Regions from separate parts of the Homo sapiens genome. Here region 2 is linked to region 1. Evidence: fine-mapped expression QTL. A gene starts in region 1. The other region holds a variant in brackets. All regions are shown on one strand. Distances are from middle to middle. Region 1 holds the start of SLC44A5 (solute carrier family 44 member 5). Region 2 overlaps SLC44A5 (solute carrier family 44 member 5).

The links. PIP is the estimated chance that this variant, and not a neighbour inherited with it, causes the effect.
Region 2: its variant is fine-mapped to the expression of SLC44A5 in whole blood (TOPMed, PIP 0.96).

The regions. Positions count from the first base shown.
Region 1 is chr1:75,602,593-75,619,040 of GRCh38, forward strand. It overlaps SLC44A5 (solute carrier family 44 member 5), which reads right to left and starts at 8,522. Exons shown (of 24, transcript NM_001130058.2): 1 at 8,448-8,522. RefSeq lists a silencer at 13,351-13,570.
Region 2 is chr1:75,458,823-75,475,270 of GRCh38, forward strand. The region is part of intron 2 of SLC44A5 (solute carrier family 44 member 5); the gene reads right to left. Among named protein-coding and RNA genes, the nearest start is that of SLC44A5, 140 kb to the right of the region's middle. The variant G/A (reference allele first, on the strand shown) is at 9,187.

The DNA.
Region 1 (16,448 bases):
TTTCAGTAAAGCAAAGGTGTTAAATCAGCAGAATCAATGTCATTGCCATGAGTAAAGAATGTGATGACATTCTTGTGCAACCAAACAAAAGTGTGATAAGAGGCTGAGATAAATAAGAAAAATGTGTTTTTCACTTCGAAAAAAAGTATTTCAAAGTGAAAGGTGCTGTTAATACTAGTTTGTGAAGCATAAATGCCCAGTAAGTAGCTTTTACCTTTTTTGTTAAATTTTATGACTTTGGATATTTTTAAACTTGTACGTACAAATGTATATAATCATAGGCTAAGCTTAAAATAAGTTTTGACTTTCCTGTAAGGCAAATCTAGAGTAGTAATACATTTTTAATAAAATGTAAATTTATTTATGTATATTTAATTTGGGTTTGAGAGTTTTTCAACATTTATTTTAGATTCAGGGGGTACATATACACATTGTTACCTGGTTATATTGTGTAATGATAAGGTTTGGAGTACAGTTGATCCTGTCACCTAGGTACTGAGCATAGTACCCCACAGTTCATTTGTCAACCCTTTCCCCCAACCTCCCTCTCCACTCTAGCAGTCCCAGTATCAATTGTTGCCATCTTTATGTCTATTAGTACCTGTTGTTTAGCTCCCACTTATAAGCGAGAACATGTGGTATCTGATTTTCTGATACTGCATTAATCCATTTAGGATAATGGCTTCTAACTGCATCCATGTTGCTGCAAAGGAAATGATTTTGTTCTTTTTTTGGCTATATAGTATTCCATAGTGTATTTGTACCTTTTTTTTTTTCATCCAATTCACTGTTGATGGGCACCTAGGTTGATTCCATGTCTTTGCTATTGTGAATAGTGCTGCAATTAACATGCGGGTGCATGTGTCTTTCTGGTAGAATAATTTGTTTTTTGAGGATATATGCCCAGTAGTGGGATTGCTGGGTCAAGTGGTAGTTCTGTTTTAAGCTCTCTGAGAGACCTCCAAACTGCTTTCCACAGTGACTGAACTAATTTACATTCCCAACAGTGTATATATGCTTATAAGCATTCCCATTTCTCTGCAGCCTCACCCAAATATTTTTAAATTTTAATAATAGTTATTCTGACTTATATGAGATGGTATCTCGTGATTTTTGATTTGCCTTTCTCTGGTAATTAGTGATGTGGAGCATTTTTTCATGTTTTTTTTTTTTTTTTTGCTGCTTGTATGTCTTCTTTTTTTTAATTGTATGTCTTCTTTTGAGAACTGTCCATTCATGTCTTTCTTTTGCCTATTTTTAATGGGGTTATTGGTGTTTTACTTGTTCAATTGTTTAAGTTCCTTATAGATTCTAGATATTAGACCTCTGTCAGATGCACAGTTTGTGAATATTTTCTCCCACTCTGTAGGTTGTCTGTTTACTCTGTTGATAGTTTCTTTTGTTGTGCAAAAGCTACTCAGTTTAATTAGGTCTCACTTGCAATTTTTGCTTTTGTTGTCATTGCTTTTGAGGACTTAGTCATAAATTTTTCCCAAAGTCAATGTCCAGAATGGTGTTTCCTATGTTTTCTTCTAAGATTCTTATAGTTTGAAGTCTTACATTTAATTCTCTGATCCATCTTGAGTTAATTTTTCCATATCAAACAAGGTAGGGGTCCAGTTTCATTCTTCTGCATATGGATAGCCAGTTATCCCAGCACCATTTATTGAGTAGAGAGTCCTTTCCCCATTGCTGATTTTGGTTTACTTTGTTGAAGGTCAGCTGGCTATAGGAATGCAGCTTTATTTCTGGGTTCTTTCTTCTGTTCCATTGGTCTATGTGTCTGTTTTTGTACCAGTACCATGCTGTTTTGCTTACTGTAGCCTTACAATATAGTTTGAAGCCAGGTAATGTGATGCTTCTGGCTTTGTTCTTTTTTCTTGGGATTACTTTGCCTATTTGGGCTCTTTATTACTTTATTACTTCCATATGAATTTTAGAATAGTTTTTTCTGATTCTGTGAAAAATGCCATTGGTAGCTTCATAGAAATAGCATTGAATCTGTAGATTGCTTTGGGGAGTTTGACCATTTTATTATTCTTCCAATCCATGATCATGGAATGTTTTTCCATTTGTTTCTGTCATCTATGATTTATTTCAGCAGCGTTTTGTAGTTTTCTTTGTAGAGACCTTTTACTTCCTTGGTTAGAGGTGAAACCAAGGGGTGTGTGTGTATGTGTGTGTGTACTGTAAATTAGGCTATGTTCTTCATTTGGCTCTCAGCTTGAACATTATTGGTGTAAAGATATGGTACTGATTTTTGTACATTGATTTTGTATCCTGACACTTTACTGAAGTCATTTTTCAGTTCCAAAAGTCTTTGGCAGTCTTTAGGGATTCCTAGGAGAGATAGTTTGACTTCTTCTTTTCCTATTTGGATGCCTTTTCTTTCTTTCTCTTGCCTGATTGCTCTGGCTTGCACTTCCGGTACTGTGTTCAACAGGAGTGGGAAGAGTGGGCATCCTTGTCTTGTTCCAGTTCTCAAGGGGGATGCTTCCTAAAATGTCAATTTGAAAGCCTGATTTTTGTCTTTGACTTTGAACACTGAAAGACAATCCAGAGAACTAGCAAATTTACATTTAAAAACCTGCCTTTTAAGTTTTTAAAAACTATGAATTTAAAATTGCTTCTTTTAAAATTGGGTTTTAAATTTTTGATTCTACAAGAAAATTTTCATTCAACAAGCACTTAGGACCTGTTCTGAGTTTCTTCAGAGCCTTTCTTAAAAGATAAGGCACATATTGAAGGTAGAGTTATTAAGAATGAGAAGGTGGAGAAAAAATAAAAATAAATAAATAAACAATGCAGCTCTCATCCAAAATCCTAATGGCCCAAAAAAGCTACAAAAAAAGATGCCTGAGAGGCCACCCCTCCTTTCATATTAAAAAGCTATAGTGATTTGTAGAGTCAGAGCTTAACAAATCACCCTATTCTTCATCCTTTCCTTCACTAAGTTGTCAGACAGATGCAGAATAGAAATCAGCAATGTGAAATTGTGGTTTCTCAACTGAATGAGGAATTTTTCACCATGACTTTAATGTTCCTCTGTCATGGGCCCTAATGGGAAACTACCAAAAGTTATAAAATTCGATTATACTATGGGAATCCACAGAAGGGGGTAAAGAGAAAGCAAAGGCAAAAAAGAAATGTCTTTATTTTGAACCCTAATCATTTATTTAAAAGCTGTGTCTCATCTAAACACAGAACAATGGGATAGGGAAAGCTCCTGCTTCCGGATCCCTTTTTCAGAAGCAGCTTCCTAGCTTCTCTCTGGAAGAAAGGAAAGATGATAGGGCTAGCCCATAGCTTCTCAGCCTTGGCAACATTGACAATTTGCACTAGGTAATCTTTTGTTGTGAGGAGGTACATTATAGAATGTTAGTAGCATCCCTGGTCTCTACCCACTGGATGCCACCAGCGCCACTCCAGTCATGACAATCAAAATATCTCCAGACACTGTAAAATTGCCCCTGGTTGAGAAGCATTAGGCTAGTTCCCGCACAATTTTTTTTTTTAATTTTTCTTTAGTTCTTTAAGATCCTTTCAAGTGAGGGAATGGACTGCCACAGTCAGCAACAAGATGACTGGCAAACTCTTGTCTTCTGGAAACTTTTTCCTACTATGGCATATTTTATTATTTTGTCAGAAAATCCATTTCTATACCTCTCTTAATACTCCATTTAATATTTCTTAAAGATAATACATTTAAAGACGTAAAAGAAGATAAAAGAGAAACATCCTTAGAACTAGGCAACATAAGACCATTCTACATTAATTCATCTTACCTCCATAGGAAACTGTCATAAAAAGCACCCAAAATTTAAAATAGTAAAAGAGAGGTTAAAACCCACCTCAATACACAGATAGTAACAAACAACAAGGAATAAAACCCACTATTATTCTTCCATCTTAAAAAAGCAAATCTTTTTTCAACTCCACAACTCCCATCCCCAGCCATATCATTTCTTTGCTCCCTTTAAAGCAAAACCCTTCAAAACAGTTAACTGTGCTGTCTTTAATTTTCCTCCTCTTCATTCTCTCTTAACCCACTTCACTCAAAGCATCATTGCCACCACTTCACCTGGGCTGTCTTTGACTTTCATATTAATTAATTAAGGTCTTCAATGACTTTCATATTAATAAATACAATGGCCATTTCTCAACCCTGATCTTACCTGACCTATGGGCAGCGTTTGACACTGTTGATTATCATTTTCCTCCTTGATACACTTTCTTCCTTGGTTCCAAGACCCCACACCCACTTCTTAGTCACCAGTTGCTCTTTCTCAATCTCCTTTACTGACTCCTCCCCTTCTCACTTATCTCTTAATAATGGAGCAGCCCTGGGCTCAGATCATTTCTCTCAATCTATACTCAATTCCCAGTGAGTCTTCCAGTCTGTGATCTTAAATACCACCAATGTTCTGATGAATTCCAAATTCATATGATCAGCCCAAGCCTCTCTCCAAGACTCCAGACTTACATATCCAGCTTCCTACTTGTCATCTTCACTTGTATATCAAATAAATATTTCAAACCCAAATGTGTCCAAAACTAAACTTCTGATCCTTCCCCATAAACTTGCCCCTTCTACAATCTTCAAATAGTAGTTGATGCCAAGTCCACCTTCTCTTAGTTGTTTAGGTCAAAAACTGTGCATTAATCCATCACTCCTTTCTTTCTCTCACATGAAACATCCTGTTAGTTTTTAAAATTATATAAGTTCTACCTTAAAAATATATTCAGTATCCTTCCATTTCTCATGTTCACCACTGCTTCTACCCTGATAGATGCCACTATCATCTCTCAACTGAATTATTTTTTATAAGCAACTTTTTATTTTAAAATATTAATTGACAAATAAAGACTGTATGTATTCAAAGTGTACAACATGATGATTTGGTATATGTACACGTTGTATAATAAATAATTATTACAACCAAATTTAATAACACATCTGACATAGTTTGGGCTGTGTCCCCACCCAAATCTCATCTTGAATTGTAACTCCCATAATTCCCACATGTCATGGGAGGGACCCAGTGGGAGGTAATTGAATCATGGGGGTGGGTCTTTGCCATGCTGTTTTCATGATAGTAAGTCTCATGAGATCTGATGGTTTTATAAAGGGGAGTTCCCCTGTACATGCTATCTTGCATGCTGCCATGTAAGATGTGACTTTGTTCCTCATTCACCTTCTGCCATGATGGTGAGGCCTCACCAGCCATGTGGAACTGTGAGTCAATTAAACCTCTTTCCTTTATAAGTTACCCAATCTTGGGTATGTCTTCATTAGCAGCATGAAAACAAACTAATACAATATCCATCACTATCTATGCTGTATATTATGTCCCCAGAACTTGTCTTATAACTGTAAGTTTGTACTGTTTGACTAGTATCTCCTCACTTCTCCCACTCCCCCAGCCTTTGGCAACCACCATTCTACTCACTGCTTCTATGAGTTCAATAATTTTGGATTCCACATATAAGTGAGATCATACAGTATTTTTCTTTTTGTGCCTGGTTGATTTCACTTAGTATAAAGTCCTCCAGGTTTATCCATGTTGTTGTAAGTCAATAGCAAAAACAAAACAAAACAAAACAAAAAACAAAAAAAAACAAATAACCCAACTTAAAAATAGGCAAAGGAACTGAAAATATATTTTTCCAGAGAAAAAGATATGGAATCAACCTACGTGTCTATCCACAGATGAATGGATAAACAAAATGTGAGGGGTATGTGTGTGTGTGTGTGTGTGTTGTGTGTGTACACAATGGAGTATTATTCAGCCACCAGAAGAAGAAAATTTTTAAAGAGTTATTGCAAAAGATTCCTTACTAGTCTTCTAGTTTCTCATTACCCCTACATATTGGCTCGATATTCTCAACACAGTCGCCGTAGCAATTATTTTAAAATGTAAGTCAGATCATATTTTTCCTCTGTTCAAAATCTGAACTGGTGCCACATTTCCCCAGAGTAAAAACCAAAGTCTTAAAACTTTCTAAAAAGTTTAATATAATTTAGTCTTCCCTCATCTTTCTGACTTCATTTTCTATTTCTATCCCCCTTACTAATTCCACTTGGTCTTCTTTCTGTTAGTCAAACATACCAGGTATATTTTCACTGTAGGGTCTTTGCTCTGGCTTTTCCTTCCTTCTGGAAGTCTCCTCCCCTTCCACTGCTTCATGTCCTTCAATATTACCTCGTCAATTGGTCCTACCCTAACCACCCTATTAATACTTGCAGCTGGCCCACCATCATCCCATGATTAGCAATCCAAATCCCCCTTACTATGCTCATTTTTTTTTCTTTCTGTCATGGCACTTTTCAATTTTTAATATCAACAATGTATTCATGCTTATTATTCATTGTTTGTCTTCCCTATGTATAGTGTAAACCTCATGAAGAATTCATTTTGTTCCCTGATTTATCCCAAGCATGCTTAGAATAGTGCCCAGTACATAGTAAGCGATTGATTAACACTTATTGAATGAATAGAGAACTACATGAACGAATAAAATAGATTAATATCCTACTCTCAAGTAGAAGAGACGGCAACCTTCCTTTCTTAAATCCTCTTTCTCAGTCTCCTATTTATACCTCAAAGGACTAACTGGGCTGGGAGGAGGAAGGGATTCTTTGGTAAGGAGGAATAGATAAATACAGCTGGAAAGGTTTTTATTTGAATATTTTAGGGTTTCATTTCTTTGGGTTTTTTCTTTTTTAATTGGCAAGTAAAAATTTATATATTTATGGTGTGAAACCTGATGTTTTGATATATATACACATTGTGGAATGGCTAAATCAAGCTATTTAACATATTCATTACCTTACATTCTTATTTTTGATGGTGAGAATAAAAGATTGTAGATTTTAAGAAACTTTCTATCTTCTTAGTTTGGAGGACTGTGAAATCTTGTGCTGTTGGGAGATTTTAGGGCTTTTGTATTCTCTTTATCACTCTGATTTTTGGTTCGGTAGTGCTTCAATTTGGAAAGTATCTTCTAAACTAAATGAACTAGAGGAGCCAGGAATCAGTACTCAAAAAAGCAGAGGAGAAAGCAAGCTGCTACAAGAAACTCAAGGGAAACAAGAAAAGAGAACTTCAGGGTTTCAGCCCAATTCACTAAATAGGAAAGAGGGCTAAGATTCAAGATCAGTGTTGGAACTAGTAACAAATATTACATTTCATGATAGAGGTGCAAAAATAATGAACCACAGGTATATTCATGATCTAATGTTATGTAACCTATTACCCCCAAATTTTAGTGGTTTAAGACAAGAGTAAGCATTTATTATATCTTATGGTTTCTGTGATTCAGGAATCCAGAAGCAGCTTGATTGGATAGCTCTGGGTCGGGGCTATCATGAAATTCAGTCAGATGTTGGCTGAAGCTACAGTCATCTGAAGGCTTGACTTGGTTGCAGGGTCTGTTCCCAAGATAGATCACTCACATAACTAGCAAGTTGTTGCTATTAGCAGGAGGCCTCAGTTCTTCCCACACAGAGCTAAGATTCAAGACTTCTATGCAAGTCAAGAAATACACACACACACACACACACACACACACACACACACACATAGTGAAGTCTGAATATAAATTAGGAACTGAGCTCTTCTTCTCTCTCCATAGGTATATACATATACATACATATACCTATATACACATAGATATCCTGGAGAATTATTTAGAGAGAGCAATATTTCTACATCAGCTCCCTAGGCCAAGTAAGGTGACCCAATGGACTTCACTTTTCTAAAAAGTGCAGTTATACTTATGTATCTTCTCTTACTATTCATCAAAATACCGACAATATTTTGGGCTGAAATGTTAATAATATCTGTATGAACCTCTGCTTCAAAAAATAATCCAAGGGATCCTTGAGTATTTTTAAAACATGGCATCTGGTTTCCCCAAAATGAGCAACATAAGAAAGCAAAGAATACAAAAGAACAAGGCAGAAGCCATAGTGTATGTCTTTATGATGTAGTTTTCTGCTGTACAGTACTGATCACATGGTCAGCTGTGATTCATTTTGGAAGGGGAGTATGAACAGGTGTGAATACCAGTAGGTAAGGATTCCTAGAGATGTTATCAACATCTCAGCCCGAAATATTGTCGATATTTTGGTGAATATTAAGAGAAGATACATAAGTGTAACTGGACTTTTTAGAAAAGTGAAGTCCATTGGGTCACCTTACTTGGCCTAGGGAGCTGATGTAAAAATACTACTCTCTTTAAATAATCCCCCAGGATATCTATATATATACACACACACACACGGAGAGGAAGTGCTCAGTTCCTAATTTATATTCAGACTTCACTATATATATGTGTGTGTGTGTGTGTATTTCTTGAGTTGTATAGAATACGTACTTATGAATAACAAACTTGACCAATTTTCCTACAGACATAGACTTCTTGCATTTAGCAGTATCACTCACCTCTTACTCCATCATTTCTTCAATAACTCCATCAACACTGAACCTTCTAACTCTAACATGCTACGATTCACTACTGTGAAAAAAAAGCTGATGTCATAAACACATTGTGTTCCAGTATCACTAAGGGCCATACCCCATTCTTAGGTAATCCCTGAGGTCCTACTAGCCTTGCTAGCCTCAAAGGAGTCACTTGGAGTATAAAGAGGGGGAGGAGACTGAACAAAGTCCTGGAGCTATAGTATATTTTTTCATTGTTAATCCTTGGCAAAGAAGTAGGTAGTTTGGAGGTGGAAGTAGGCCATGATTACCTTTAAAATAATCTACTATTATTTGTGTCTTTCCTGAATATCATAGCACCTTCTTGTCACAAATGCTTAGGGGAAAGAAAATCATCCAATATACCCCATATCCCACTTACCAACATCTCTACAGTAAAATGAGACCCAAGAGCATGATTTCCTTAACTAGCTATCAAGCAACTACCTCCAACAAACAGCAGTTATCATTAATATGTTCATGCTATTTTCATTTGTGAGGTCTGTAATCCATCAGAACAACCTGACAGTGATTAAGTAAAATCAAAGAGACTTTGTAAACATCTGTGTGCTTTTATTGTTACAAATGCTTCATTATAAAAAGATCAGTCAAAAGCATAAAAGTACCCTGGTTTAAACTTTTTCTGTGTTTGAATGAGAATGTTTCTCTTGGAACATGCTCATATCAGGCTTCCACTTGGCAAAATCACGAATTGGCTGATGTTGTTTTAGAGGCTTTCTCATGTCCCCTTCCAAACATCACTCTTCTCCTTCTGTGGACCCCTTTCTGTTATCTAGGAGCCCCTCATGCTGCCTTCCACATTCTGCCTACTGCACAGTCATGTTCTGGACCCCTCAGAATCCCCCTCTACCATTACAATATGTTTTTCCTAAGACTTACTTGCATTGAAAGGCTTGCCAGGGAAGTGACTAATCTTATCATCTTGTACTAAATGTTAAATTAATCCTCATTCTCTCTAGAATTGTTTTCTAAGCAGGGATTCCTAGAGATGCTATCAATATCTCAGCCTGAAATTGCATAGGTATTCTGGTGAATAGCAAGAGAAAATAACGTGAGTATAACTGGACCTTTTAGAAAAGTGAAGTCTATTAGGTCACCTTAGTTGGCCTAGGGAGTTGATGTAGGAATGCTCCTCTCCCTGAAATAATCTTCCAGGAGAGGAATGTATCCCCAAATAGCAAGTGAATATCCAATGGCTTCTCATTGCACTTAAACTCTATATTCCTTTTTATGACCAAAAAGGCCTGGCTTCTCCCTAACTGTCTCTTCCTTACACATTACACCTCTTCCTTTTGTATGTGAATGTGCCAAGCTACCACCTCATTTCTACCTTAAGGCCTGAAGTGTTATGTTCCAGTTCTTGGCATGCAAATTACTCTTCATCACTTGTTTCCCGACACAAATGCCACCTTTCCAGACAATCTAAAGTAACCTCAAAATCATTTGCTCGCACATCACTTTGTTTTATTTCTCCTGGTATTAATCACTATGTGAAATTTTCTGGTTCATATTATTTGTCACCTGCTTCTTCCAGGCCTCCTCTTACTTCATTGTCTATCATGTTCATTACCGTATCCCTAGTGTTTTGCACAGAATCTGGTACATATTCAGTGCTCAATAAATATGTGCTAAATGAATAAATGAATAAATTAACCTAAACATAAGTTTTACACTTAAGTAATTGAGCAAGAAGTCTTTGTTGTACTAATATTGGAAAAGGCAGGGGTGGGGGTGGTGACGTGATTATAACCAATGTAACCAGCTTGCATTTATAAGACTTGTATTGATTATGAACTATAGCATTTTTTCGTTAAAAACATTATCAATATTGGATTGTAAAAGATTCCATTGGCCTTTCTGAAAGACTGTCCTTTTGATGAGATGTCACAAATGAATGCTAATGTCCCTTGAGAAATCCTGCCAACAGATCTTATTCTTCTATCAATGTTAAGAAACTGCATTTCTCTTTGGCCAATTTCTAGGCTTATGGATAGTCTCTCTTGCTAGGACTTCAGAAGCCAATGAGCAACTTGCCTGTCACAAGATCCGACGAATGATCTCTCCCTGCATGCGGTGTAGCTAAGCAGAGAAGCAGCTCTTGTAAGAGAATAACCAACACAGCATGGAATATTGCTAAATCTACAGTGTTTTATCCAGCAAAGTTCACCCCAGTAGCCTGCCCCTGCCAATAAAGCCTAGAAATTTTTCCTACCAGGCAGTCCCAGTTTAGTTGGTTGTAGCTTAGAAGCAGACATCTGAGAGCAGTTCAGCAAGCCTGCAGTCAGATGCTTTTGTAGAGCTCTCCTCTTAAAAGGCAAAATTGAGGCAAGTCAATAGATTACAACTTTCTGGGTTTGCTTCTGTCATCTATCAAATATCACAATTCATCCTGCTTCGCTAAAGTGAAACTCCAAGGATTTGTTTTTAAAGGTGTCCTTCTTTCTGTGAAATACTAAATGAACTTGTTTTAAAAAACAAGAACAACTCAACACAAGTTGATAGGAGCTAAGTAACATAACTTTTCCTTTAAGAAAAACATGTAGCATGAGAAAACCTTATTTTTAAAGTACTACATAAAATTTATTGAGACCACATGTCGTAAGAAAGCTTGATTATTAATCCTTCCAGAGAAACTGTTAACACTTAACTGCTATTCTTCAATTATTTCACTATCAAATTAAACTTATTCAAGAAAATACAAATGATTCCATACTGACCTACAAAACAAAAACTTTTTGGTGTTTTGAGGGGACGGAAGAATAAAGGGGAGGTGTCTTTTTCATCAAATCTCTTATATGAGCTCATTTCATCAATCTAATTGTATCTTTTTGTGCTTCTGCCAAGATTATTAATTTCAAGGGTAAGATTTTCTCTGGCTACCATGTACTGTAAAACTGTAAAATTTTTTCCACTCTTCATGGACCATTTACAATCTGCAAGGTTTGGGGTGGGAATGAAATGTATTTCTGCCAATGGATAGCCACATCAGCAGTGCTGAAAACCAATCCTTCTGTTTCACTCATCGTGCCATATGGCTCCATAAAAAAGGAGCGAACCAAAAGTGTAGCTCATACGCCTTGTCAATCTGGGCTTAGACTAATTATTTGATATTATGATAAAGAGAGGAATCTGTTTGTAGGTGAATATATTCTCTCTTCTTTCTTTACTCGTGTATCTCTATACCCATGCGCTAATTTATGGAGGGGGGGAATCAGAGGTTTAAAGCCCCTCTAATTTTACAGGAGCTATAATATTTTAAGAAAAGGCATTGCAATAAAATTGTCATACATAGGTTATAATTTTTAACAACAAAAAGTCCCAGGTGTTTTCATAGTAATGTCTTCTTAAGAATTAAGGATCATGATTTTAAACGCTTTCCAGTAAGTGCTTTGAGTACTCCGGAGCAATTAAAAAGCAAGCTGACGCGCCAAGATAAAGTTGTGTCCCCCTAGTGACCTCTAGAGCGGAGCTAAGCTCCCACAAGCCAGACTTGGGAGGAAAAGCAAAAAGCACGCCAAAGCCTGAGCGCTGCTGTAGTCCAAGCCAATGTATTCAGTAATACCCTTCACCCCTCAGTTCTCATCTGAGTTCCTGTCCTTTTTTATATAACCCCAAAGGCTCAGTAAGTCGCTGCCTCCCAGGTCATTGGGCCCATTGTGTTGAAATCCAACTTCGAACGACGCCCCTTCCTTGCCACCATCCTCAGGTCCAGTTCCCCCGCGCACAGCCTTCCTCACCGCGCATGGTGTCGAGCCCACTTCCACCTCTCTGCAGTGCTGCAGACAACCTCTAGGGCTCTGCGAGTCCCCCAGCGAGAGCTAGGGAGCCGACAAGCTGCGACCTCTGCGAGTCCGCGCTGCGGGAGCGGGTGGCTTGCACCTGCTCCCCGCGCGCCGGCTCTGCGACCCCTAGGCAAGACGCAGCCCAGGAGGCTCCCTCCCGAGTCGCGCCCCGGACCACGCCGCAATGCCTCGTCACCCCAGCAACAAGCTCTTCCTTGTCCTCCCCGCCATCGCTTCTCTCCGCGAACTTTCCAACTTTGGAAGCCCGGGTTCCAAAGGAGCAACAGGGAGACTGCTTAGCCGGAGCCACTGCCCGTCTCGACAGGTTGGGGAGCAGGAAGTAGCCTGCAGGGACTCGGCCGGTAGCAAGTCCCCTTGACCGCAGGGAAAAGGAGAGGCAGCCAGCTCCAATCTCCTCCTGAGGATGGAGGTTGGGGAAATGGATGCAGAACTTGTCACCCTAGGGACGAAGGGGCGGAGGGAGGGGGGATTGGAAGAAAAGAATAGAAGAGACCATGAAAAACTCTCTCTCTCTCTTACACACACACACACATACATACACACACACACACACACACACACACACACACACACACACACGAGAGGGAGAGAGAGAGAGATTCCGGAAAAGACAAGATGCTAGGAGCCCAGTCGCTTCTCTCCCCACTGCCCAGAGGCTAGGAGGTGCAACAGATAGATACCCAAGCTCGCCGAGTAGCAAAGGGGTGGGGTGAGAGAGGAGTCTCCAGGTTTCCCCAGGTTGCAAAAGGGGCACAAACTCCTGTCAGTGTCCCCGGAGGCCAGGGGAGGTGCAGCGGCGCCGCGGTTTCCCCCACCCCCTCCCCGGACACGGCAAACTCTTCCCCGGCAGGAGCCTTCCACTTGGCCGCGCCTGGATGTAAACAGGCCGGCCCGAGGGGCAGAGGGCGGGTGAGAGAGGGGAGGCGGCGAGGGGAGGAGGGAGCGGGACTCACCCTTGATGCTGGGGGGCTTTCTCTTCTTGGCCATCTTCTGTCCCCTTCCCTCCCCCGGACCCCCCACGCGCTTCCTCCGGCTGCCGCGCAGCTCCCAGGCGAGCCCTCGCCGCGGCTCTCAGCTCAGCGAGCTCTTTGTTGCTGTGATGGCATCTGCGAGCAGCAGCGGCGGCCGGGCTGCGCGCTCAGCTCGGCTCGGCTCGGCTGGGGCGGGCGCCGCCGCCCCTCTGCTCTCGGCCGCGCCGCTGGCCCCCCTCTTGCGCTGCTGTGGACGCGGTGGCTGCTGCGGCGGCGGCGGCTGCTGTGCTGCTCCTGCTGCTGGAGGGGGCAGCGCTGGGTCCCCTGAGCGCCCGCCCAGCGCTGACCTCCCCCTTCTCCACACCCTCCCTCCCCCACGCCCCCACCCCCGGTGTCCCGTCTGAGCCGCCAGCCCCCATCCAACCGGCTACCGCGCCGTCATCCAGCAGCCTCTACTGGAAAGACAACGGTGGCGGCGGCGGGGAGCTGCTGGGGGGCGCGGAGAGACCGCGGCCATCTGGGGCCGGGAAGGAGAAAGCCAGGCAGAGTCTGATGGAGTCTGCCTCCGGCCTGCCTTCCTCTGGGCCTTCGAAGCCCCCTCTCAAAAGGCCAGGACGCGCTGGGCCCAAGAAAGACACCCGTCTTCACAGGCCAACCAGAACTCTGGCCACCTGCGGGAGGACGGCACTGTCCCTTGCGACCCGGCCCAGGAGCCGTCCTCCTCCACAGCCTCCTCGAGGATAGCGAGCCCGAATTCCACGCGGGCGATGAGCCCCGAAGCGCGCGGTTGCCTCTGCCCCTCCCGAACCGAGAAGGAAAGAGGGGAGAGGGAAACAGGAGTCTGATGGAGGGGAGAGAAATGGAATTCCAGAGGCAGCCCACGGGCAGACACCTGCAAGAATGGCTGTGTTCTGGCCCTGAAGTTCTTAATAGTGAGGGCCCAGGATAGTTCCCTTGGGGCTGTGGGAAAAGAGGGAAGTTCACGCTCTCAGATGTTGGAGGAATTGGAAGCCGGAGGTGTGATTTCTTGGCCTCCAGCAGAAACTTGGTTACAGTGGCCACGTTCTTTCTCTCTCTGATTGGGGGTTTGCTTTGGAAAGTTCTCATGTTCCTGGAGGAGCTGTCCTCCCCTCGCGTGCTGATAAGGGATGAAAAGAAGTTCTGCTGGCGTCCCAGAACTGCAAGGGCAGGCGAAAGTTTAAGAATATAAAGGAGTATCGGACCTTAAAAAGAAACGCTTAAAGGGTAGGGTAGGGAGAGGTTACCAGGGTGTGCCACTGTGGGAAGAGGCTACAATATCGAATTTTTTTTATATGCTGCAGCTGAGATTGCCGCCGAAACGCACTTCCTAATTCGCAGTGACCTTCTTAACACTTCTCCTTTCCTCCTCCTAGGTTAGTACAGTTCCCAGCCCAATCTGATTGTCTAAACATTCAGTGAGTTAATTCAATATCTCCACCCAGAAGTTGCCCCAGTACTAGTGTGGTGCGGCAAAAAGAACAGTGAAGTCAAAAACCCCAATTGTGAATTCTGGCCCTGTAACTTCGTAGCTCTGAGAATTTGGACAAGTCACTCAATCTCTCTGCTCTTCTGTTTTCTGATATGTGCGATATCATCTCAAAAATTTCTTCCAGCTCCTGAGATATTAGTGACAAAATCATCACAAGTTATTTTTTCAGCCCTTCTAAATATAGCTTCATATAATGTAATATATTGAAGTAAATAATCTAGAAACATGTGAAATGACCAATTCCTCTCACAATGAAGATGTGCATCAGAAATAAAAAACAAAGAACATGTTTCTTTTAATAAGCAAAATAGACCCATTCTCAGACTTATGATCAGAAATAAGACTGACTCAAAGTTTTCCTCTTCCAAACAGCTGCCTCTTATTTAATTAAAAACTACTCTTCTAGGTCTTCAAATGTTTACTGTGTATAATATTAGACTTTGTAAATATTTCAGTCCATTTTATGTGCTCATATTTTATCACCAACTACTAATTATTGCCTATATTAGAATAATGTTTTTCTGTTTATTCATTACTTTCACATACTTTATTTCATTTAATCATGACCACACCCATGAGTTGAAAAGCAGGTCCTGTCTTCTAGGTTTTACAGACGGTGAAATGGGATTCGTGGAGGTATGATAACTTGCCCACAGCTTCGGTGTAACTCTTTTAACTCAATACCCAGCTCTCTCCACAACACTAGCTGCCTATGTGAAATAGAATATTTCTGCTTCAGACCAGGAATGGTTTCCTTTTTCTAATTTATTCCTTCCACAATGTCAGTACTATTCTCAACAGAGGAGACTCAAATTTAGTTGACTAGTTAGGACTATTTTTGGTACATGGATGTGATTAATATGCTTTTACACTGTTAGCACTTCAAAGTGTCCTTACATGCATTATCTCAATTAAGGTCATGACAATCACATAAGATCATCAAAAGAGGTTTATTCAGCCCTGCTGAACAGATGAGGAAACTGAGACCAAAAGACATTAAGGCCACAACTACCCAGGCCCTGGATTTCCAGGCCAAGTGTTTCCCCTATAGCCCACACTGTGTGTTTTTGTTCAAGGGTTGCAATTAGAATGACTGCAGGGAACAGTAAGACAGAATACATGACACCATCAGTATAAATATACAGTCATGCATTGCTTAACAACAGAAATACATTCTGAGAAATGTGTCTTTAGGTGATTTCATCCTTGTGCAAACACCATAAAGTATACTTAAACAAACATACATGGTATAGCCTACTATACACTTAGGCTATGTGGTATAATCCATTGCTCCTCAGCTACAAACCTGTGTAAGATGTTACTATACTGAATATTATAGGCAATTGTAAAACAATGCTAAGTATTTGTGTATCCAAACATATCCAAACATAGAAAAGGTGCCATAAAAGGCTGGGCATGGTGGCTCAGCCTGTAATCCTAGCACTTTGGGAGGCTGAGATGGGTGGACCACCTGTGGTCAGGAGTTCACGACCAGCCTGGCCAACATGGTGAAACCCCATCTCCACAAAAAATACAAAAATTAGCTGGGTGTGGTGGCAGGTACCTGTAATCCCAGTTACTTGGGAGGCTGAGACAGGAGAATCGCTTGAACCTGGGATGTGGAGGTTGCAGTGAGCCGAGACTGCACCATTGCACTCCA
Region 2 (16,448 bases), 140 kb before region 1:
CAAAGTGTGCACTTAATAAACATATGAAGAATTAATGAGAAAAAGCAAGGAACTGGTGGAAAAAATGAGTTTGTTTTTGAATATAATGAGTTTGAAGATGCCTGTGGAATTTCCATACAAAAATAATACGGATCTAGAGTTCAAGAAAGAGGTTCAAGTAAGAGATAGAGAATTGAACCCCATCAGAATAACTAAAGCCAGAAGAATGGATGAGCTCAGAGAGTGAAAAAAGATATTGGTGAGGGATAGTGCCCCGGAGAAATCACTTTAATAAAAGTTTCATTCTTTTTGGCCCAAGGATAGAGAAAGATAATTTATCCAGATGAAGATTCAAGAGTCACAAGGACGTCTGCTCTAATCCAAGCACAAGGAAGAACCATCTCTCCTCTAATAGTCACTATAAAGCTATTGCCTGTCTTACGAAATTGACATCCCATGGAAAGAAAAAATAATAGCCTTTATTTATTTAGTATTTAGTATTTACAAAGTTCCGTTTTTAAGTATAATTTACATACAGTAAAAATTTATCCATTTTTTGGACATTCAGTTCTGAGCCTTGACAAATGTACATAGCTATGTAGCCACCAACATCATCAACATATAAAGCACTTTCATCCTCCAAAACTTTTTATATGATCCTTTGTAGAGGATCCCCTTCTATTCCCAGCACCTGACAACCACTCGCAGATGTTTGTTCATTTGGTGAGGTGCAAGAAAGGTATGGTAATTATTATCACCCTCCCTTTCCCGAGAAGGAAATACAGTAGCTTTCAGAGTTATGTGACTTGCCCAAGTAACATAGTTAGCACCTGAGCCCTGGGGTTCTAATTCTAAATGGAATATCTTTCCTTTGAAACCCAGAATGTCATCTTATCAGCACACAATTATTAGAATTCATGGCATGTAATGCAGGCCAATAGTCATAGTCTGTAAAGCATCTAGAATCTTTCAAATGTTCAACCAATATAATGGTAATTGTAACTTAAAAACATATTACTTTTATTATCATTATTTAGATAGGGTCTCACTATGTTGCCCAGGCTGGCCTTAAACTCCTGGGCTCAAGAAATCCTCCTGCTGCAGTTGGAACTACAGGAGGCACGTGAATCTTATACAAAGCAGTGCTTAAGCAATGCCCTGAAAACCAGGAAGAAGAAGTAGGAAATAATTCTTGGAGAGTTGGTTTTAAAACTGGATTGTTCAGGTAGCAGGTGTTCCTGAGAGTAAGGGCGACTATATTAAAATTAATGGCTATATACACATCGAACATAAACTATACAAATCTGCCTCACTATATATACATTCTCTGCACTGTTCTCTCCACATGAATGAGCTCTGCTGTAGGAGCTCTTGAACTCTGGAACTCTGAGGACAAATGGAGTTTATAATGTTATGATAATGAGAAGCCCTATTTTAAAAGGAATCATTATTAAAGTACTCTGCTTTAATTTGGCATTGCCTTCCTACTTCCGCCCAACTTTATTTGGAATGAATTGAAATTTCTAACCTACTACCAGTACAGAAACTATGTGATTAAGACAATAAATATTTCACAAAATGTAAACTCAACTTTTGGGGCTTTAAACATCTGCTCTAAAGATAAAATGTTTACAGATGCACAGTCATGGACAAAGTGAAACCTTTCTCCCAAAAACGTTTTATGAAACTGGAAGATATAAGCCCATTTACAAACAAAGTTGGTGTATTGCTAAACCTACTGTGTAGATTTAAACTAATTCACATGTAATGTTGGTCATTTATATGGGTCTTTATGCAGCTGTGGGACAATCTCAGAGTCTTTTTGACTACTTTAGATAAAATTATTCAATGAGACTAAAACTCAACATTCAAGATTCCAATAAAAGGGATCTAGACATTGGAATTGAAATATCCCCCAAATCTCTACTGATATTATTGCTATTTTTATTGCCAATATTCTCAATAGGAATAATCTCATGTCAACATTTAACCAATCTTTTCTCCATTTATCTTTTCTACCCTAGAAATGCAAGACAGGTAAGAAAATCACTTACATCCAACTACCTTCTAGTTGGATAATTGTTCACTTTTAGTCAGGAATTTGAATGGTTTTCCATTCTTACATAATTCATCTCCATTAAAATCAGTCTGACATCCTTGCAAATTTATCCACAATATGGGGAGAGTTTTACAGATGTATATCACCATAATATTAATGATAGTGAAAAAAAAAATGGAAGCAACCCAATGTCCGAGAAAAAGAAAATGGTTAAATAAAGGCTGGTATATTGATTAAACAAAATGTCATGCACCATTTACAAGAATGTTTACAAAGATTATATAGCAACACAAAAAATGCTTTTGGCATACAAAGTCTTCACATAAACCAAAAGAGATCTCTTCTCTGATGATCAAATTAATTCCACAGATAATCGAGCACATTACTACTATACATCAGGTATGAAAATAGTTTTAAAATTGTTCCCTAACCATTTTCATCTCTGACAATTTTCACATGCACCTTTCTCCCTGTAAGATAATATTATTTAGGTCACAACCTTCACACACGTGTTATCTTAATTGAATCCTTATAAAATCCAAAGAGGTAAATAATATTATTAGTTCACTGGAGTAACTATTAATATTATTATGAGTGGTGTGTCTCAGGACATTAGATATATTTAATTGTGTTTTGAGGATCCCATTTGTCCAAGTCAACCAAGTCACCAAATTTTGCTAGCCACGGTGACTAAATAGCTCTTTCCTAGCAAAAGAAAACATAAAATTCTCATTATTGAGTTACTGTCTAGGCCAGCACTGTCCAATAAAAATACAAAGCAAACCCTTGGATAGCATTTCTGAAACTGCTCTCGGCCAGAGGAGTGCCTACTACCCTAAAGAGTGAGTCCAAGGCCAGGCAGCATTCACAATAAGCTGACTAAAAAGCCCTTGGGCCTTAGGGGGAACATTGGTAGTAATCTGCCAGTACTCCTCATGGCCTGGAGTGGTGGTGGGTATGGGATAAGACTCCTCTGCCTTTGGAAAGGGGAGGGAAAAATGGAAAGTACAATAGAACATCAGATGGCCTTTTAAGGTTTTTGACTCTAGTTCCTGGCTCCCAAACAACACCTATGGACCCTCCTGGGTCCTGGAGAAAATCACAATCCTGCAGGGAAGGACGCAGGCCTGGCTGACTTTGCCACCTGCTGACTGTAGAGCCCTATGGCACTGAGCAAACATAGGCCATAGCCAGGGAGTAGTTAAGCAGGCCTTGGGCAAGACCCAGTGCTGTGCTGGCTTCAGGTCTGACCCAGGACATTCCTAGCGGTAGTAGCCAAAGGGTGCTTATGTCACTCCACCCCCATCTCCAGTTGACTCAGAACAAAGATATAAACTCTGTTTGTTTGGGAGAAAGTAAGGGAAGAGAACAAGAGTCTGCCTGGTAATCCAAAGAATTCTCCCAGTGCTTGTCCAAGAACATCAAGGTGGCACCTCTACACGTCTGCAAGAACCACAGTGTTACTGGACTTTGGGTACCCCCTAAAACAAATACAGCTTAGATCACAACACTTACGTCTTTTAGAATACCTGGAAAGCCCTCCCAAGAAAGACTGGTACAAGAAAGCCCACACTGAGAAGACTAGAATAAATACTTAACTCTTCAATGCCCAGACACAGATGAACATCTGCAAGAATGAAGACAATCCATGAAAACACAACATCACCAAATGAACTAAATAACGCATCAGGGACCAGTCCTGGAGAAACAGATATGCGACCTTTCAGACAAAGAATTCAAAAGCTGTTTTGAGGAAATGCAATGAAATTCAAGATAACGCAGAGAAGGAATTCAAAATGCTATCAGAAAAAATTTAACAAAGAGATTGAAATAATTAAAAAGAATCAAGCAGAAATTCTGGAGCTGAAAAGTGCAATTGACATACTGAAGGATGCATCACAGTCTTTTAATAACAGAAATGATCAAGCAGAAGAATGAATTAGTGAGCTTGAAGACAGGCTATTTGAAAATACATAGAAGAGACAAAAGAAAACAGAATTTTTTTAAAAAAATGAAGCACACCTGCGATATCTAGAAAATAGCTTCAAGAGGGCAAATCTAATAGTTATTGGCTTTAAAGAGAAGGTAGAGAAAGGAATAGGAGTAGAAAGTTTATTCAAAGGGAAAATGACAGAGAACTTCCCAAACCTGGAGAAAGATATCAATATTCAAGGACAAGAAGGTTATAGAACATCAAGCAGATTTAACCCAAAGAAGTCTGTCTCAAGGCATTTAACAATCAAATTCCCAAAGATCAAGGATTAATAAAAAAAGATCCTGGCTGGGCACGGTGGCTCACGCCTGTAATCCCAGTACTTTGGAAGGCCGAGGCAGGCGGATCACAAGGTCAGGAGATCGAGACCATCTTGGCTAACACGGTGAAACCCCGTCTCTACTAAAAATACAAAAATTAGCTGGGCGCGGTGGCAGGCGCCTGTAGTCCCAGCTACTCGGGAGGCTGAGGCAGGAGAATGGCGTGAACCTGGGAGGCGGAGCTTGCAGTGAGCCGAGATTGTGCCACTGCACTCCAGCCTGGGCTAAAGAGCGGGACTCTGTCTCAAAAAAAAAAAAAAAAAAAAAAAGATCCTAAAAGCAACAACAGAAAAGAAACAAATAACGTACAATGGAGCTCCAATATGTCGGGCAGCAGATTTTTCAGTGGAAATCTTACAGGCCAGGAAAGAGTGCATGATATATTTAAAGCAATAAAGGAAAAAATTTTTACCCTAGAATAGTATATATCTGGTGAAAATATCCTTCAAACATAAAGGAGAAATAAAGACTTCCCCAGACAAACAAAAGCTGAGGGATTTCATCAATACTAGACTCATCCTGCAAGAAATGTTAAAGGGAGTACTTCACTTAGAAAGAAAGGAATGTTAATTAGTAATAAGAAATCATCTGAAGTTACAAAACTCACTGGTAATAGTAAGTACACAGAAAAACACAGAATATTACAACACTGTAACTGTGGTGTGTAAACTACTGTTATCCTAAGTAGAAAGCCTAAACAATGAACCAAACAAAAACAATAACAACTTTTTGAGACATAGCACAATAAGATATAAATAGAAACAAGAGGCCGGGCGCAGTGGCTCATGCCTGTAATCCCAGCACTTTGAGAGGCCAAGGCAGGAGGTTTATGAGGTCAGGAAATCAAGATCATCCTGGCTAACATGGTGAAATCCCATCTCTACTAAAAGCACAAAAAATTAGCTGGGCATGGTGGCATGCACCTGTAGTCCTAGCTACTCGGGAGGCTGAGGCAGGAGAATCACTTGAACCTGGAAGGTGGAGGTTGCAGTGAACCGAGATTGCACCACTGCACTCCAGCCTGGGCGACAGAGTGAGACTCTGTCTCAAAAAAAAAAAAAAAAAAAAAAGCAAGAAAGAAGAAAAAGGTAAAAAGCAGGAGGACAAAGCTAAGGCATAGAGTCTTTATTTGTTTTCTTTTTGCTTGTTTGTTTATGAAACAGTGTTGGTATCAGCTTAAAATATGAGTTATAAGATAGTATTTGCAAGCCTCATGGTAACCTCAAACCAGAAAACATACAATGGATACACAAAAAATAAGCAAGAAATTAAATCACATCACCAGAGAAAATCGCCTTCATTAAAAGGAAGGAAAGGGAAGAAAAGACCACAAAACAAGCAGAAAACATAGAACAAAATGACAGAAGTCCTTATTTATTAATAATAACGTTGAATGTAAATGGACTAAACTCTTCAGTCAAAATATACTGACTGAATGGATGGGAAAAAAAAGAAGTAATAACCTGTTGCCTACAAAAAATACACACATAAACTGAAAATAAAGGGATGGGAAAAGATATCCCATGCTATTGGAAACCAAAAGACAGCAGGAGTCACTATGCTTGTATCAGACAAAATAGATTTCAAGACAAAAACTATATGAAGAGACAAAGGTCTCTGTATAATGATAAAGGAGTCAATTCAGCTAGAGAATATAACAATTTTAAATATATATGCACCCAACACTGGAGCACCCAGATACATAAAGCAAATATTATTACAGCTAAAGAAAGAGAGAGGCCCCAGTACAATATACAATAATAGCTGGAAACTTTAACACCTCACTTTCAGCCTTGGACAGATATTCTAGACAGAAAATCAACAAAGAAACATCATACTTCATCTGCACTATAGACCAAATGGATCTAATAGATATTTACAGAACATTTTATCCAAGAGCTACAGAATACACATTTTTTGTTCATCAGCACATGGATCATTCTCAATGACAGACCTTATGTTAGGTCACAAAACTAGTCTTAAAATATTTTTAAATGAAATAATATCAGTCATCTTCTCTGTACACAATGGAATAAAACTAGAAATCAACAACAAGAAGAATCTTGGAAACTATACAAATGCATGGAAATTAAACAATATGCTCCTGGATATGGGTCAATGAAGACATTAAGAAGGAAATTGGGCCAATGAAGAAATTAAGAACACTGAAAATTTCTTGAAACGAATGATAATGGAAACAACATGCCAAAACCTATGGGATATAGCAAAAGCAGTACTCATACATACCTACCCAAAAAAAGAAGAAAAACTTCAAACAACCTAACAATGCATCTTAAAGAACTAGAAAGGCAAGAGCAAACCAAAACCAAAATTAGTAGACGAAAAGAAATAATAAAAATCAGAGCAGAAATAAAGGAAATTGAGATGAAGAAAACAATACAAAAGATCAATAAAACAAAAAGTTGGTTTTAAAAAACATAAACAAAATAGACAAACCTTTATCCAGACTAAGAAAAAAAGAGAGAAGACCCAAATAAATAAAATCAGAAATGAAAAAGGAGATATTACAACTGATACTGAAGAAATTCAAAAGATCCTTAGTGGCTACTATGAGCAACTATATGCCAATAAATTAAAAAATCTAGAAGAAATGGACAAACTCCTAGACACATGCAAACTACCAAGATTGAACCAGGAAAAAATCCAAAACCTGAATAGACCAATAACAAGTAACAAGATTGAAGCTGTTATAAAGTCTTCCAGTAAAGAAAAGACCAGCACCCAATGGCTTCACTGCTGAATTCTACAAACATTCAAAGAAAAGCTAATATCGATTTTCCTCAAACTATTCCAAAATTAGAGGATGAGAGCATACTTCCAAACTCATTCTACGAGGCCAGTATTACTCTTATATCCAAATCAGAAAAAGAGACATCAAAAAAAGGAAACTACATGCCAATATCTCTGATGAATATTGACACAAATATCTTCAACAAAATACTAGCAAACCAAATTCAACAATACATTTAAAAGGCCATTTGTCATGACCAAATGGGATTTATCCCTGAGATGCAAGGATGGTTCAACATACGTAAGCCAATCCATGTGATATATCATATTAACAGAATGAAGGACAAAACCCATATGATCATTTCAATTGATGCTGAAAAAGCATTTGATAAATTTCAACATCCTTCATGATAAAAATCCTCAAACAACTAGAAATAGAAAGAACACACTGGCCGGGTGTGGTGGCTCATGCCTGTAATCCCAGCACTTTGGCAGGCCGAGGTGGGCGGATCACGAGGTCAGGAGTTTGAGACCAGCCTGGCCAACATAGTGAAACCCTGTCTCTACTAAAAATACAAAAAGTTAGCTGGGCGTGGTGGCAGGTGCCTGTAATCCCAGCTACTTGGGGGGCCAAAGCAGGAGAATTGCTTGAACCTGGAAGGTGGAGGTGGCAGTGAGCCGAGATTGTGCCACTGCACTCCAGCCTGGGTGACAGTTCAAGATGCCATCTTAAAAAAAAAAAAAAAAAAAAAAAGAAGGAACATACCTCAATAGAATAAAAGCCATATATAACAGATTCATAGCTATTATCATACTGAATGGGGAAAAACTGAAAGCCTTTCCTCTAAGATCTGGAACATGCCAAGGATACCCACTTTCACCACTGTTATTCAACATAGTACTGAAATTCCTAGTTAGAGCAATGAGACAAAGAAATAAAGAGCATCCAAATTGGAAAGGAAGAAGTCAAATTGTCCTATTTGCAGATGATATGATTTTGTATTTGGAAAAACCTACACTGCACAAAAAACTATTAGAATTGATCAACAAATTCAGTAAAGTTGCAAGATACAAAATCAACGTACGAAAATCGGTAACATTTCTATATGCCAATAATAAACAATCTGAAAAAAGAAATTTAAAAAGTAATCCCATGTACAATAGCCACAAATTAAACTAAATACCTAGGAATGAACTAAAGAACTGAAAGACCTCTATAATGAAAACTATGAAACACTGATGAAAGAAATTTAAGAGGACACCAAGAAATAGATAAATATTCCAGGTTCATATACTGAAAGAATCAATGTTGTTAAAATGTCCATACTACCCAAAGCAAGCTACAGATTCAATTCAATCACTATCAAAATACCAATGATATTCTCCACAGAAATAGAAAAAACAATCCTAAAATTTATATGGAACCACAGAGGACCCAGAATAACCAAAGCTATCCCAAGCAAAAAGAACAAAATTGAAGAAATCAAATTACCTAATTGCAAATTATACTATGGAGCTATAGAAACCAAAAACAGCTTGATAGTGACATAGAAACAGACACATAGACCAATGGAACAGAATAGAGAACACAGAAATAAATCTACACACCTACAGTGAACTCATTTTCAATAAAGGTGCCAAGAACATACACTGAGGAAAAGACAGTCTCTTCGATAAATGATGCTGGGAAAACAGGTTATCTATATGCAGAAGAACGAAAGTAGATGCCTATCTCTCGCCATATACAAAAACTAAATCAAAATGGATTGAAGGTGTAAATCTAAGACTTCAATCTATGAAATTACTAAAAGAAAACTTCAGGGAAACTCTCCAGGACATTGTTCTGGGCAAGAATTTCTTGAGTAATACCCCACAAGTGCAGGCAATCAAAGCAAAAATGGACAAATGAGATAACATTAAGTTAAAAAGTTCTGCACAACAAAGAAACAATCAACAAAGTGAAGAGACAACTCACAAAATGGGAGAAAATATTTGCAAACAACCATACGACAAGAGATTCATAACCAGAATACATAAGGAACTCAACTCTATAGGAAAAAAATCTAATAATCCAATCAAAAGAT[G/A]AACAAAAGATTTGAATAGACATTTCTCAAAAAAAAGGCATACAAAAGGCATATAACAAGGTTTTCAACACCATTGATTATCAGAGGAATGCAAGTCAAACTACAATAAGATATCATCTCATCCCGGTTAAAATGGCTTATGTCCAAAAGACAGGCAAAAACAAATGCTGGAAAGGAGAGGAGAAAAGGGAACTTTCATACACTGTTGGTGGGAATGTAAATCAGTGCAACTACTATGGAGAACAGTTTTGAGATTCCTCAAAAAATTAAAACTAGAGATACTATATGATCCAGGAATCCTACTGCTGGGTATACACCCAAAAGAAAAAAGATCAGTGTATCAAAGAGATATCTGCATTCCCATGTTTGTTGTAGCGCTCTTCACGATAGCCAAAATTTGGAAGCAACCTAAGTGTTCATCAACAAATGAGTAAATAAAGAAAACATCATATTATACACCATGTAGTACTATTCAGCCATAGAAAAGAACTAGAGCCTGTCATATGCAACAACATGGATGAAATTGGAGGTCATTATGCTAAGTGAAATAAGCCAGGCACAGAAAGACAAACATTCCATGTTCTCACTTATTTGTGGAAACTAAAAATCAAAATAATTGAACTCATGTTGATAGAGAGGAGAAGGATGGTTACCACAGGCTGGGAAAGGCAGCAATGGGGTTTGGGGGATGTGGGGATGGTTAATGGGTACAAAAAAAATAGAAAGAATGAATTAGACTTAGTATTTGACAGCACAACAGGGTGACTATAGTCAATGATAATTTAATTGTACATGTAAAAATAACAAGAAGAGCATAATTTGATTATTAGTGACCCAAGAGATAAATGTTTGAGGGGATGGATACACCCATTTTACATGATGTGATTATTATACATTGCATACCTGCATCAAAATATCTCATGTACCTCATAAATATATACACCTGCTATGTACCCACAAAAATTAAAATGAAAAATTAAAAATGTATATATATTGCATGCCAGGTATGCAAGTTTTAATTTTTTAGTAGCTGCATTAAAAAGGTAAAAAGAAACAGATGAAATTAATTTTAATAATGCCTTTTACTCAACCCAATATATTCAGATTATCATTTCAACATGTAATCAATATAAATTCATTTATTTGAGATAAAAATGAGATATTTTGAATCCTTTTTGTTTTAACCAAGTCTTTGAAGGCTGGTCTGTATTTTACATTTACAGCTCATCTCAATTCAGACTAGCCACATTTCAGGTGCTCAATAGCTTCATGTGAAAAGAGGCTACCATCTTGGACAGCACAGTTGAAGACTAACTGATTGATAAAAGAATGTTGAAAATACTTATGAAAGGTAAATGATGACATAATAAGCGTGAGCTGTAACACCATGTGCCACTTAAGAAGACAATAATACCATTTATATAATTTAGATGCAGATTTTACTAGCATTCCCAGAAAAAAAAAAGTGTAGTGAATTTCTTCTTCTTTCCTTTTGGCAATATCATTCTGAAACCAGTGTGTGTAGAACTTAGGGGAAAAAATCACTAAAATGGTACGGCGTATAATGGAATAAAAATATTATGCCATTGGGATAAGGTGTCCTGGCTTTGAGACAAAAAGTAGAGTCAGACTGAGCACAGTGGCTTATGCCTGTAATTCCAGCCTTCTGGGAGGTGAGGCAGAAGGATTGCTTGAGACCAACGGGAGACATAGCAAGACGCTGTCTGAACGATAAGTAAATATTATCTGGGCATGGTGGTGTATGCCTGTAGTCCTAGCTACTCAGGAAGCTGAGGTGGGAGGATCATTTAAGCCCAGGAATTCGAGGTTACAGTGAGCTATAATCACACCACTGCACTCCAGCCTGGGCGACAGAGAGAGACCTTGTGAAGAAAAAAAAAAAAAAAAAAAAAAAAGTAGAGTCAACGTATCCTGACTCCCATAATAAAAAATTGCAGTTCAAAGGGAGGAGGGCTTCACGGATGACTTGCATATTTCCTAAGCTCCTAAAACATTCTTTAGAGGCAAGTATTTATCACCAACCTTTCTATTTGACAGCATATTAAAGATATTCCTACAGTTTTGGTGTTTCTGTAAGAGCAACTAAGGAATAACCCTGGAAAGATAAGAGCTTTTCATAACAACCAAGCTTTCAAACCAATCAATCCTCAAGACAATACTTTTTAAAAAAATTGAATGAAGTCTACACGTGAAGCTAAAAGCTTTGGTTTTCAAGAACCCTAGGGCTATACTTTAAAACAGCAGTAAAAAACATACTCAAAGATGGAAGAGAATGAGCACTCAAGAGAAACCAAGTGAATGTACAGTTGTGCCCTACCTTATAAATGTTCCTCACGTACTGCCACAGCTAAAATTAGGTCCCCACGTTTGAAATAATCCTTCCACAAAAGGTAGTTTATGTTGTATGAGCTCTTCTGTAACATAACGGTAGAATTTATAGTCTAGTGAGGACTACTACAGCCAAGTAAATAGGCATCTAAATTATTATATAGTGTGAAGACTACCAAGATAGGGAAGGTATAATGGAAGCACGCAGGAGGGGCCATAACCCAGACGTGAGGGGGAGGGAATGTTACTGGCGTCAGCTTCCTGAAGAAAGTGAAGTCTAAGCTAAACCTACACCATGAGTAGGTGTTAGCCTAGTGAAAGGAATTTGAAGCAGAGGAAATGGAATGTCCAAGGCCAGAGAGAAGCGTGACCTGGCATGGCATGTCGAAAAACTGAGATAAGTATGGTGGGAGGGTTGGGAGGGGCTGTCCAGGTGGAGAGATGTGGGTAAGGAGTTAAATAAGAGTGCCATCCTGCCATCCCTTTTAAGCTACGAGTATGGACTTGTTCTCTAGAACAATGGATAGCTACCAGAGGCATCTGAGTAACTGTTTCTGCTTTGACTCCCTACCTTTGGTGGGTTTCTAACTCCTCAATTACATGAAAATTCTAAAACTAAAGCATTTTGCAAGTATTTTGGGGGTAAATGAAAAAGCTAACAAAACACAACTATCTTCAAATATAATGCAGAGAGGGAAAAATAGAGGGCTCAGACAAATTTATTCCCTGGACTTGGAAAGTTAGTATTTTCTCAGTGATTCGTTGAAGATCTATTTTTTAACCTTTTTTTTACGGCCTGGCTGTGTTTCTTTGGAGTTTCATAAAATTAATGGCTTGTAACATCTCATTACTGGGCAAGTCTAAGGGCACCTTTCTCATCATTGCTTGAATTTCTGCCTTGAAGGGAATCCCCAGGATGGGAATTTTCCTGCGAGATGGATTGCTGTTTCATTTGAAGCCTTCCTTTCAACAAGGAAAAATTTCAAATCCCTCTCCATCTAATACATAAGCTTGTGTGCATGAAAACACACACACACACACACACACACACGTACACACACACACACCCATGAATTAAATCAGAACCAGGACAAAAGAAAAGGAGGGAGGAATGACATAAGCAGCTTCCAAAGCACTGCCTCTACCTGATCATAGCCTTTTATCTCAATCATGGCAGGGGGAAAGCCCATGCCCTCAATCAAGCAAAAGATCTCAAGAGAATGCGGGCAGAGCTCATGTCTCTTCTCCAAATATGATTTTTTTTCTATTTTTCCTTTGCTAATGTGTTCAAAGTATTTCCTCTCTCTGGCATTCCACTGCCCTCTATTTCTTAATTTTCTTCTACTGACTCCAGACTGGCAGCTTTTTCTTAGCTCAGTCTCTAAACCCTTTGTGTAGTTTCTTATGGGCATTTACTCTTATTCTACCTATGCCTAGAGAAGATCAAATAAGCTAGTTTGTATCCTCTGTCCAAAACTTCTGCACATTCCTAAGGACCATGAACAAGGAACCACTAAGGCTTTTTTTTCTCTGATCTATATTTATAATGCCACTTCCTGGTTATTTTTATTTTCCAGACCCATAATCTGTTTTGTGGCAAGCCATGGAAGGAACTCTCAGGTTTCTCATGTCTCTCTAAGCAGGATTTGGCAATACTAGATATTGTATTTTAGTAGGATTTTGGCTAGTGTTCAGGACAATAGGCAGAGCATATCCCCCTGGGTTTAAAAAAAAAAAAAAAACTACTGGGGCCTGGGTGTTTATTCTTCTTCTCTCAAGCCACTGGGAATAGAGCTTTCAAACAAGACCAAAGAAAAATATGAGAATAAAAAGGCTTCATGGAAAAAATAAGGTATCTTTAGGGTGAGTCATGCAGGGGAAAGTGTGCCGAGCACCTGTCAGTAGTACCTTTCTGATTCAGTCATGAGTATCAACTTAATTCTTTCTTTTGAGAAGAAAGCCAAGGTATTTTGAAATGCATAGCTGTTTAGATGTGGTACCCATTCTGCAAAGTTAATAACATCTTTGAGGGTTCATTAATCTCAACAAGCCTGAAAAAAAATAAATTTTCATGTTCTTGCTCTCCTACTATCATTCTTACAGTTCTTTTACATAAATAATTGGTTATGGTTCAAATTAAAATAACTTTGACAATTATTAAGCAAGCTAGGAGTGTTTTGAGCTTGCGCTGTGAAGTGAGATATCAGCGCCCCAGGGTGCCTCAAGACCATGTGTTATCTTATGATAACATTCAACTCACTTTTTTCTAGGCTTATAAAATACAAGTTTTTCATTTAGCAGCTGAAATGACTGTGCTCTCTTTAGATAATATTCCCTCACTGAAAGGTTAGTCTCAATAGAATTTTTATGATTAAAGCACAAATGTGGTATTTATGAGGACTAGGATTTGTGTTTCTGGCAACCCGAGTGTCCTCAAAAGCATTGCAGCCCTGTCCTCATTTCACAAGTCCTATAATGTTTTGCAGACCACCGTGTCCTCTATACTTAAATCCTTCTCATAGACTAACAAGTGGCAAGCCTTCACTCTTACACATATTATAATCTTTGTGGGATGCACTAAAGACTTCTGTGTGATGAATTGTCATCTCCCTCAACCTCAAAGGTAACTGGCTATAAAACTGTTTTATGTTGCTAGTATTCCTAGTCCTCGTGTAAAAATACTAGCTGTAATTCAGTGTTGGCAATGTGGTATTATTCATAAAGCATTCAGACTGTACAGTTTTAGAATGTCATCGGAACTTCCTGATTGAATTACAATCTAGCATTCAGCTAAGTGTCCTTTTTTATGCATGAAAATTACTCACAAGCATTTCCCAACATCTCCAGGGCCTACATGGGAGTTCCAGAGGGAGCAACACTTTGCATAATCCTTCAAAAATATCTTCAGGGACATTCAAGAACCAAGAATTGGATAAAGCTTTTAAAATCAATGCTGGTTATAAAAGAAAAAAAACATAGCTTACAAGATGAAAATGTGTTGATGATTTTCCAAAGAGGAAGAGGAAGCCTCTGAAAATATGACTCAACTTCACTTGCTGGTTTCCAAAGCAAATTCTAAGTTGATGACATGGATTTAGCCCAACTGTGTCAGACAATTTTTGGTGAGGTAGGCGATGGGGTTTTGTTTGTTTCTTGCAGAATTTGGGGGTACTTGATTTGCGCTGTTCTTTGCTAAAAACACTTATCTGCCCCACTCAAAATCCATTCACACATAGATGTTTTCTTATTCACATTTCTATGTTTAATTTCAAGAGATAATACTTTTACAGATGACTTTCCCTATTGTATCAGCTTCTCTAATTCTAGCACTATAATCAGCATCTTATTTTACAAGTGCTTTTTCTTGACTCTAGCCTTATTTTTTATGTTCTTTCCATAATTTTATAAATTCCCTTTCTTTATAAATAAGAAAATAATTTTTTCCTCTGTTGTGGCCTTTTCCAACTTTGTCCAATAGCAAATTTGTCCAGCCTAGCTGGTGGCAGTATATTTAGTACTAAGTAATATAATGAATCTTCTAAATATGAGCTCTGTGGCTCTGTAGTGTGGTGGTGTCATAGAATATCAGAGATATTTTAGTCCTGATTCAATACCTGCACATACATGACATATAGACATAACATTGTTTTATGCCTGTAGACTTGCTTTGTTTCTTCAAAAATATATGTTAATAAAAATGTGAGCAGATTTGCTGCTTCATTGAATATTTAACACTGCTTCATTAAATTAGTTCACTGTCAATAACAGATTTCATTCTAAGATTCAAGGCAGGAGATGGGGAATGGCAACAATCTGAAAAATAAAAAAAGAAGGAACTTCTAAGAATATTTAGATTTCTTTGTCATACAGTCTGCACCTTCTGTCAATTCCTAGGCACTTACTGTCGATAGTAAATTTGTCCAGTCTAAACTTACTAGATTCATTCTGTTTTATTATTAAATAAAGTCATTTAACACTGCATACTAAAGCTAAATTAAACATGTTCCCAGGATAATTATCTCTATATATACTTACATTCATTCACGAGAACACTACTTTCAATCTTATAATACTAATGCTTTCAAATTCACACCTCAATGCCAATATTCTCCTCTGACTTTAACATTTTCTGGATTGATAATCAATATAGTGGAGTTATTGTCATTCATAAAATTAAGATATAGGTCATTAGCTAATCTTGATAGTAAGACATTTACGTGTAATGTTACACAAGGATGTTTTGTTTTGTTATTGCCAATTAGTAGTCCAAGTTAATTGGAAGTTTTCTTTGTGGGGCATAGAATTATGTGGCTCAAACACATTTTCAAAATGACAATACAAGACAGAGTCATAATTAGTAAAATTTTATACCCCAAATTTCTCTTATTTCAATACATATTTAATTATGATGTGAGTGGGCTTCCTTTAAAAACAATCCAGAAAATTCTACTTAGGCTAACTTTATAATAAACAATATAACTGCTCTTTTCATATAATTTGTTTCAAAAAGCATATGTTAGTAACTGGAATTTTCAAGTAATTCTGAATTCTTCCAAAGCACAGGTCTACTAAAATGGCCCTACTAAGACCTCTGGTAAGAGAGCAGCAACAATTCAACTGCCTGAATGAAATGCCAAATGGCATAAAGTAAAATCGTTGTGTGTCGCCCCTGAGTTATTCACACATCAGCAGGAAGTGAAATGAGGAGCCTGAATTCCATGTCCTTTACCACTTGCCCTCTGTGGCATTTATGAAAGAACCCCTCATAAGGAAAAATAACATCAATAATGATGATCTTACGCCTCATCTCTTAAATATTCACAGCTCAGCAAAAGCCTAATAAGAAGAGTGGCCTTTATGTCCTCTTTCTAGATGTCCTTCCAATATCATTTGAGGAAACCTTGTAAAAGACA